Regions from separate parts of the Homo sapiens genome. Here region 1 is linked to region 2. A link means that fine-mapping ties the variant in region 2 to the expression of a gene that starts in the linked region. Tissue or cell type: whole blood. Region 2 holds a variant in brackets; the other region holds the start of a gene. Each region is shown on its reference strand, or each on the opposite one.

The links. PIP is the estimated chance that this variant, and not a neighbour inherited with it, causes the effect.
Region 1: it holds the start of AOC2, and the variant in region 2 is fine-mapped to the expression of AOC2 in whole blood (TOPMed, PIP 0.98).

Annotation. Positions count from the first base shown.
Region 1 is chr17:42,842,532-42,846,922 of GRCh38, forward strand. AOC2 (amine oxidase copper containing 2) reads left to right here and starts at 2,049. Exons shown (of 4, transcript NM_009590.4): 1 at 2,049-3,683. The coding sequence starts at 2,096. PSME3 (proteasome activator subunit 3) reads left to right here. Exons shown (of 11, transcript NM_005789.4): 11 at 1-1,229.
Region 2 is chr11:128,732,969-128,737,359 of GRCh38, forward strand. The region is part of intron 1 of FLI1 (Fli-1 proto-oncogene, ETS transcription factor); the gene reads left to right. Among named protein-coding and RNA genes, the nearest start is that of SENCR, 39 kb to the left of the region's middle. RefSeq lists enhancers at 1,038-1,327, 1,081-1,626. The variant T/A (reference allele first, on the strand shown) is at 2,306.

The sequences.
Region 1 (4,391 bases), not on the chromosome of region 2:
TTGGGGTGAAGGTTTCTGCAAGTGTGAGGTCCAGATGCTGCTGCTCATGTTGGGCTTTCCTTTTGGGAACTATTTCTCTTTATTTATAGTGTCGGGCTTCCGGGGAAAGCAATCATTGGTGTGTATGTGTATGTGCATGCACACACGTGCATATACACATTTGTGTATGTGGAAATGTGCTGGGCAAGTCAAAACTATAGAAGAGTTGCCTCCTGTCTCTCGAATCTTCCAGAGATATCACTTAATTGTTAACAGCTTTTGTGTTAATCCCCTTCAGCCCCTAGCTCTTTTATTCTACCACGGCTGGAGAGTTGATACCTGCAGTCAGCCTGCCAGTGACTCTTAGTGTCTGTTTCTGACTTATTTTTCCTGTCTCTGTCTTCCAACCCCCAATAATATTTCCACCGGGGATGCATCATTTTTACTCCCAATATTCTGTAGAGAGGGAGTCAGGATGCTGTCTTCCCACGAATAGTACTCAGTAACAAACCAATTGCATTTTAGTTGGGCAGTGCTCCCACCCACCCTCCAGATCCCTTCCAGCTAAAACCCTTCCCCCTTCCCTCCATGTGTTTCTCAGTTTCCCGTTTCGTTTGTTGGACTGTTCCACTGCCCCTCCTCCTCACCCTATCACCCATGGATCGTAATGTAAAATTCTTTTACCATGTCAAGAAATTATTAAAAATACAGGTACTTTGACCTCTTTCTAAAGCCGCAGACCCTGGTGCAATGCTCTGGTGGCTAGGGATGTACTCATGCTCATATGTGTGCACGCTTGGACACCCACCTCCATGGACACCTAGCCACCCTGTTGTGTGTCCTTATGCCAGTTGAGCTGAATCTTTTCCCCAGTATAGTGGAAAGACTGAGGCTTCTGCCTACTGAGCAAGGTTGGGTGCTTCATTTGTGTTCAGTCTGAATTATGGGAAAGTTAGCTCTTCCCAGACCTAAGCTGCCTTCTCTCCCTACTTTCAGAAGATCCTAGTTCCTTCCTTCCCGAGTGATACCCATGAACTGCCAGTAGAGGCTGCTATCGTTCCATGTGTAAGGAATGAACTGGTTCAAGGCGCGTCCTACCCAGTCATTTTCTTTACCTTATACTAATTCTTCCTGAATAATGTCTTCAGTTTCTTGAGGAGACTCCTAGTTTTGGTTTTCAAATTACTTGGAGGGCTGCCTAGGAATCTATCTCCCTCTGAAATAAAGTTTCCTCATCTTCCACCTTGCAAGTAGCCTTCTGGTTTCCAATGATCCCCTCGTTGTCTCTGTAAAAAGAGTTTAAGGTCTTGAACAATGGAGGAGCAGCTGCTCTGTTCTGTTTCAGAGATGACTACCAAAAGCTAGCGGTTTGTGAGTGCCTCCCCTGTGCCAGGCTGTTAAGTACCTAATGTGCATGATCACATTTAATCTTCAGGAATCTATAGGATAGTTGTATCTATTTGTTACAGATGAGGACACTGAGACTCAGGATAAGTATTTCCGCTAAGGTTACACAGCTGAGGGAACTGGGATTGGTGGACAAACCTGATTACTAAGCCCAGGCCCTCAGCCACTCCACTGGTTGGAAATGGCCTGACTACAAATCAAGGGCTTGGCATTAGGCAACAAGTAGAATTCAGTGCTTACTGCTGAACATGGCAGTGAATCCTGGAGCTGTTGGGATGCAGTTCCTGCCAGGAGGTAGGAAAATGGACAGCTTAGTGCTTGCATGCAGGCTGCAGAACTTAATTGGGCATCTGAGGTTTGTACTCTTCCTGAGACCCATTCCAGGTGGAAACTGGAGGTTAGCATCGTTAACCCAGATTCCCTTTCATCTGGTCTAAATGATGGAAATCAGTAGTTGGTACTGACTGCTACCAGTGGGAGTTCAGGGGCAAGGAAGAGGCTATGCATGTGGAAGCAGTGCCCTGGGCCAAACCACAGGACAGAAAATTGGAACAGAATTACATAAATCAAGGTCAGAAATTTCCTGCCCAACCCATGGGGTGGAGTTTTCTCCCTTCCTATCCATCCTAGCGAATATAAACCCCGACTTGATGTCAGTAACTGGAAGGAGCAGCTGTTAGAATTCTGATTTCAGCTCTCAGCATCCACCATGCATCTCAAGATAGTCCTGGCGTTCCTGGCACTGTCCCTCATTACCATCTTTGCCCTGGCCTATGTTTTGCTGACCAGCCCAGGTGGTTCCAGCCAGCCTCCCCACTGCCCCTCTGTATCCCATAGGGCCCAGCCCTGGCCACACCCTGGCCAGAGCCAGCTGTTTGCAGACCTGAGCCGAGAGGAGTTGACAGCTGTGATGCGCTTTCTGACCCAGCGGCTGGGGCCAGGGCTGGTGGACGCAGCCCAGGCTCAGCCCTCGGACAACTGCATCTTCTCAGTGGAGCTGCAGCTGCCCCCCAAGGCTGCAGCCCTGGCCCACCTGGACAGGGGGAGCCCCCCACCTGCCCGGGAGGCACTGGCCATCGTCCTCTTTGGTGGACAACCCCAACCCAATGTGAGTGAGCTGGTGGTGGGGCCGCTGCCTCACCCCTCGTACATGCGGGATGTGACTGTGGAGCGTCACGGCGGGCCCCTGCCCTATCACCGTCGCCCGGTGCTGAGAGCTGAGTTTACACAGATGTGGAGGCATCTGAAAGAGGTGGAGCTACCCAAGGCACCCATCTTCCTGTCGTCCACCTTCAACTACAATGGCTCTACCCTGGCAGCTGTGCATGCCACCCCTCGGGGCTTGCGCTCAGGGGACCGAGCTACCTGGATGGCCCTCTACCATAACATCTCAGGGGTTGGTCTTTTCCTTCACCCCGTGGGGCTGGAGCTACTACTGGACCACAGGGCCCTGGACCCTGCCCACTGGACTGTCCAGCAGGTCTTCTACCTTGGGCACTACTATGCAGACTTGGGCCAGTTGGAACGGGAGTTTAAGTCTGGCCGGTTGGAAGTGGTTAGAGTCCCTCTACCTCCACCAAATGGAGCTTCATCCCTGAGGTCTCGGAACTCTCCAGGTCCTCTTCCCCCTCTTCAGTTCTCGCCCCAGGGTTCCCAGTACAGTGTGCAAGGAAACCTGGTGGTATCCTCCCTCTGGTCATTTACCTTTGGCCATGGGGTGTTCAGCGGCCTGAGGATTTTTGATGTTCGGTTCCAGGGTGAGCGAATAGCCTATGAAGTCAGTGTCCAGGAGTGTGTATCTATCTATGGTGCCGATTCACCCAAGACGATGCTGACTCGCTATTTGGATAGCAGCTTTGGACTCGGCCGTAACAGCCGAGGCTTGGTGCGGGGAGTGGACTGCCCCTATCAAGCCACGATGGTGGACATCCATATATTAGTGGGCAAAGGGGCAGTCCAGCTGCTTCCAGGGGCTGTGTGTGTATTTGAGGAAGCCCAGGGACTGCCCCTTCGAAGGCACCACAATTACCTTCAAAATCATTTCTATGGTGGTTTGGCCAGCTCAGCCCTTGTGGTCAGGTCTGTGTCATCTGTGGGCAACTATGACTACATTTGGGACTTTGTGTTGTACCCAAATGGGGCACTTGAAGGGCGGGTCCATGCCACGGGTTATATCAACACAGCTTTCCTGAAAGGGGGAGAGGAGGGCCTCCTCTTTGGGAACCGTGTGGGGGAAAGAGTGCTGGGAACGGTGCACACACATGCCTTCCACTTCAAGCTGGACCTGGATGTGGCAGGTGAGTGCTGAGGGGATGAGGATGGAGACTTGGGGGCGGGGTCAGGTGGGGTGGAGGGAAGGGAAGGGAATCTCCCAGGTCAAGCTGAAATAACAAGTGGCAAGAGCAGGGTGTTCCAACACCACAGCTCTAGTGGCAACAGGGCAGGGACTGTTTGAGCATATTCAGTGCAGTGAGTCTGGTACTGGGCTACTGGGTATCTGGTAAAAGGTGAAAAGAGTTCCCCCGCCCAGCCCCTCTGACTTGCTATGATTGTGAAACTAGTTTAAATGTAATGGCTGGGCATGATTGCCTTAGCCTCAAGTGACACTGGGTGGGTGAACTGGCCCAATGGGGCTGGAGTTGGAGCACTTTGCTTCTTCCTAATTCTGAGGGTCAGTAGGGGTGGGGAGGGCAGGGTCCTGAGCCGAGGTCGGAAGAAGTCTGTCCAGAGTCTTCAGGGTGGGGGTCGACCTGGGGCTTAGGAAGGAGAGGGTAGCAAAGCTGGGGTTGCTCCCCAGGATAGGGCCACTCCTCATCGGGAGGGCCATCCCATTCCTGTCATCACAGTTGACTCATGGCAGGCACACAGCTTGCTGCAAGTATGGAAAGAGATTTCTCAAGCACAAAGGGCTCAAAGCACACAGAGGACTTGCTGTTCCTGACAGACTTTGTCAAGGACAGAAAGGAACTTACAGACTCACACACTGATCCACAAAGAAAATTAGA
Region 2 (4,391 bases):
ATGTGTCCAAGGGATGCTCAAAGCTGCTTTCTCAAAACAGGATTCTGTGTTCAACTGAGTGTGGGAAATTCAAAGGAACTTAAACAAGTCTCTTTGCATCAGGACTTATCAGAGCCTTGAATATACTAATGGAGATCCTGAAGCTCCAAGGGAAAGGGCCGCACAATGCAGTCTGCAGCGTTTTCCAATCAAATTTGATTGCAAGAGGTTTTTTTTTTTCACTGAGTACCTAACTCAGTGGCTCTGAAACTTACATCTGCACAAAATTCCCTTGGGGAGTGTAAAGAATGCTGATTCCTCGGCTCCAGCTCCAGAGATTCTAATTCACTGGATCTGGAATGGTCCCGGGAATCTTCATTTTTAACAACACTTCAAGTGATTTTGAGGCAGCAAGTCCAGGATCCACACTAGGAGAAAAACTAGTAGGATTAGTGTCCTGCTGGTGTCCCGGAAGCATCTCAGTAGCTCTACACACTCCGCCATTCAAGCTTTCTCAGCTTCCCCTCACTCTTTAGAACCTGGCTGATGCTGAGTGAACACGGTCAAGTTAGTGGGCCAGAGTAGATAAAAATAATGGAAACATGCAAAGTGAGTCACAGACAGCAAATCCAACCATTGCCTAGAATTTGTTGGGTGTCACAGGTCAAGCTACAAAGATCACATTCGCCATTTGGACTCAGTTGGCAGGAATGTTATGCATGTGTGATATAAGATGCTGTGCGCTGAAAGTCCCTGAAGCTGTGCAAATACTGGATCCAGCAGAAGTTTTCTCTGTTGTGCCCATCTGCCTTTGTCTAATTAGCCAAGGGTCACTTTGGCTGCCTCCCTTCCTTTCACATGGAGCAAAGGTACCCAGAGAGGCACATGTTGATGCATTCATATGCAAAGAAGTTCTTGTCTTTCTCTCTCTCAAGTCATTGTTCAGTGAGGAGTCAGCTCCCACATGCTCCTCCTATCTGGGCTGCAATCAGCACAGTGAGGAGAGGAGCGACAGAGCACATGATTATGACCGGGGCTTGCTGCTGAGCTGCAGGGGTTCAGAGTACTGCTACCTGTGCAATGGCAGCTTCCCCAGAGCGCCCAGGGGCTCCGAGGCCACAGACAGAAAATATCTTTGCTACCACGTGCTGAAAAATATCCCCAAAACCATTTGCCAAAGATTTGACTTGGTTAAAAGCGAGGTGGAGAGGGGTGGTTAAACAGGGGAAGCTATAGAAAGGAAAATGCGAGAAAAAGATGTTTTGCATATTAAACAGCCCTGCTTTGTCCTCCAATTCAGCCAAAACGTTTGGAGGAGGCTGCGCTGTCCACGTCCACAGTGCTCTGAACGTGCCTCATCTGATCTTGGAAGCTAAGCAGGATCGAGCTGAGTACTCAGATGGAAGAAGGCTATTCTCGTGCGTGTGCAGAGACCAAGATCATAGGGAAAAGCATGTCTAAGGTTGGGTTTTGTGTACAAATATTGTATAGGAACATAATTCAACCTGTTTAAAACAGGAGGATGATTGTGGCTGAAACCACGGTGGGAGGAAGGAACATGTTACATTTCTTCAAAGATAACTGCAGATCGAATGCCTTCATCCTTGTGACCCGCGCTGCCTGCACTGTGGTGTGTTTTGCTTGGTTTGCACCAATGCCCTGGCTGGCGGTCACTTGCTCTTGGTGGCCAGTTTCATTTCCTGGTTTTGAGAAAATGTCAGGGAGGCCTGTTGCTTGGGCATACTGTCACTGAGGGAAGTGTGCAGTTTTAAAATGTCAAAGCCAGCAGGCTCATGTCCAGTGCATGCCATCAATCAGCAAATGTCCCTGGACCCCTAATGAGCCCACTGAAAGTTCAAACGGTAAATAACGAACAGATAAAGATCTTGCCCTAAAATCGCCTACCATCTAACCAAAGGGGCAAGATCAAAAGGGAAAGAAAAATAGTATCAATATGGAAAAATAAATGTACTAATTGCTGTAGTGTTTGTGGGCAAAGAATGCAGCTGAGAAAGTGCAGCCTCGTGGAAAGGGCCCCACGGAAGGGAGTCCAGAGGGTTGGCCTCACACTCTTCCCCTTCCCGCTTTATGACCACGAACGTAGTCCTTCAGAACCTTTGTTTCTTCATCAGCAAAGTGGGGGAGGGGAATAATCCTGCCTTCTTCTCCAGTTTATTAGAGTAATTAAATAAGATTATAGATGTGGGAAGGCTCCTATTAAGATCAATGTCTTAAACTATAAAATAATCTACAATTTTCCTTGTCATTATTATTACTGATAACAACAAAATGAGGGGAAATAAGTCTAGAAAATGCATCATCTGCC[T/A]GTTCCATTAAAAAGAGACAGAGGCAGAGATGGAGCTGGACACAAGAATTCAACCAGCCTAGGACTTTGTTCTGGCACCTCAGTGTATATTTAAAGTCCTGTATAATAACATAGAAGTAATCATGGTTATCGCTTATTTGTATTGATGGATTTAAGGTGGGCTTTTTATTTCTAAGGTTTGGATACATCTAAGAAAATAGCATACTTCCTAAGATACCATTTGATTTTAATTTTCAGAGAGCTGATCACCAATTTGGGAGAACTTTGTGACTGTATGTTTGGTATAATTCCTTTAGAGATCAATTTGATGATGGAGAAATAATCCTCACATTATCCACATTATCAGATGTCTAGATAAGATAGGAAAGGTAACTTTATCACAGCTGTGTGACCCATGATGGCCTAGGTAGCTGAGTGAACCAGAAGTCTGAACTTGGAAACTAAGTTGTAAAGTTCTTATGAACTTCCTAGGGCTTCCTGAGCCTCCCCCCACCTTTAGATGCCAAGTCTCTTTGCAAATTCATATCATTCCTGCAAACAGAAAATAGTATTTAGAATAATAAGATGTTTTTCAAATTTTCCTTCAAGGGTCCTATGAGCTGGCCTGATAAATTGTTTAACTTTGAAGGGAATTTTGAACAAATAGGACAAGACAATCGAAACACGTATCTAGAATTAGGACATGGTTGATCCCGAAGTTCTTAAATACTGAAACCTCCTTGTGGTATGCAGAGGCCAAATTGATCATCTTTAGGCAGAGATTCCTTAGACATGATCGATGAGGCTATCCATCTAGCGTAACACTGAGACTTTCTTGTGTAAACCCCTCACACCCACTAAACAGGAAATGCAAGCTACTAGAGCTGAACATTCAACCACCCCCTAAGTCCCCACCCTCCACCCCCGCCCAGCATAAGAACATTATTCTTTGCTTTCCTTTCCGAAGAGCTGTAGGCATTCATTCATATATGCAGAGCAATCAGACATCATTAGACAAAGAACACCTGATAATAATTCTCACATTTTGGAATCTTAAGAAACTTCCAATGAAAGGGGTGATACGAGTTGGTAAGCCACAGCTTTTGGCGGTAGCATGAGCCCTCTGGCTTCTGAAACCCTAGAGGCCACAGATAAGATACACTCTTGTAGCAGGCTTGTCATACTTGAAATTCTAACTGGTAGCTTGATATCCTGAGTTGCTTTCTCACTTGAGCAACTTTGGTTGAGAATGTAGGAACCTGGAAAGATTTCTTGAGACATGCTCATTTTAGACACACCCAGAAACATGCCAGGTACAGATGACAATTTCCACTATAGGTAAAACATCTCAAAACAGAAGCCTAAGCTGACAGTGGACCAATAACTGCATTGTTTATTGGTTTCCCAAGGCAAATGTTCAGCAAATTCTGTATATATAATCAACAGAAAATTTTGTTCAGATTCTAGAAAAGATAGCTGCTGTTTTGTATATGTGTGTACTTTCTGCTATAGTAGTATTTGCATAAGTTAAATATTTTCAGTGCAATTTTTATTAGTTTTCAAAATGCACTTTTGTGGGTATCTGTGTGTATGCAGGTGTGTGGGGAGAACCATGAACAAGACAAAGACCCCTTGTCACTGAGGGCAGAGCCTGACTCAGCATCCCAATACAGCCCCTGGTTTGCATTCTTCCCAAAGGAGGCACATTCTAACAAACAAACAACCATGCCAAGCCTCCGACCACAAACCCAACCAAACATTTTCAAAAAGATGTATATATTTCTGTGAAAGAATATGGATATCTTTCAGTGCTCAAGAGGCAGTATTCTGCAGTAGATCTAACTCAAGTGGATAGGGACTTCGGAAAGCCCTTTTTCAAACTGAGTTTGTTGAATCCAGCTAGCTACATGGAAGGGATGGCAGGGCTCAGTGGGAGCAGGACACAGTAGGGGAGGCCAGGGTGCAAGCTCATCCACTCCCTCATCTGTAAAATGGGTTAGTTCCCTGACCACCTCACCACACTATTGTCAGGCCTCCTTCACTGGGAGCTGAAAAAGACAAACGCTGAAGCAGAAAGGAGGGTTTTTACAAACAAGGCTTGAATGAT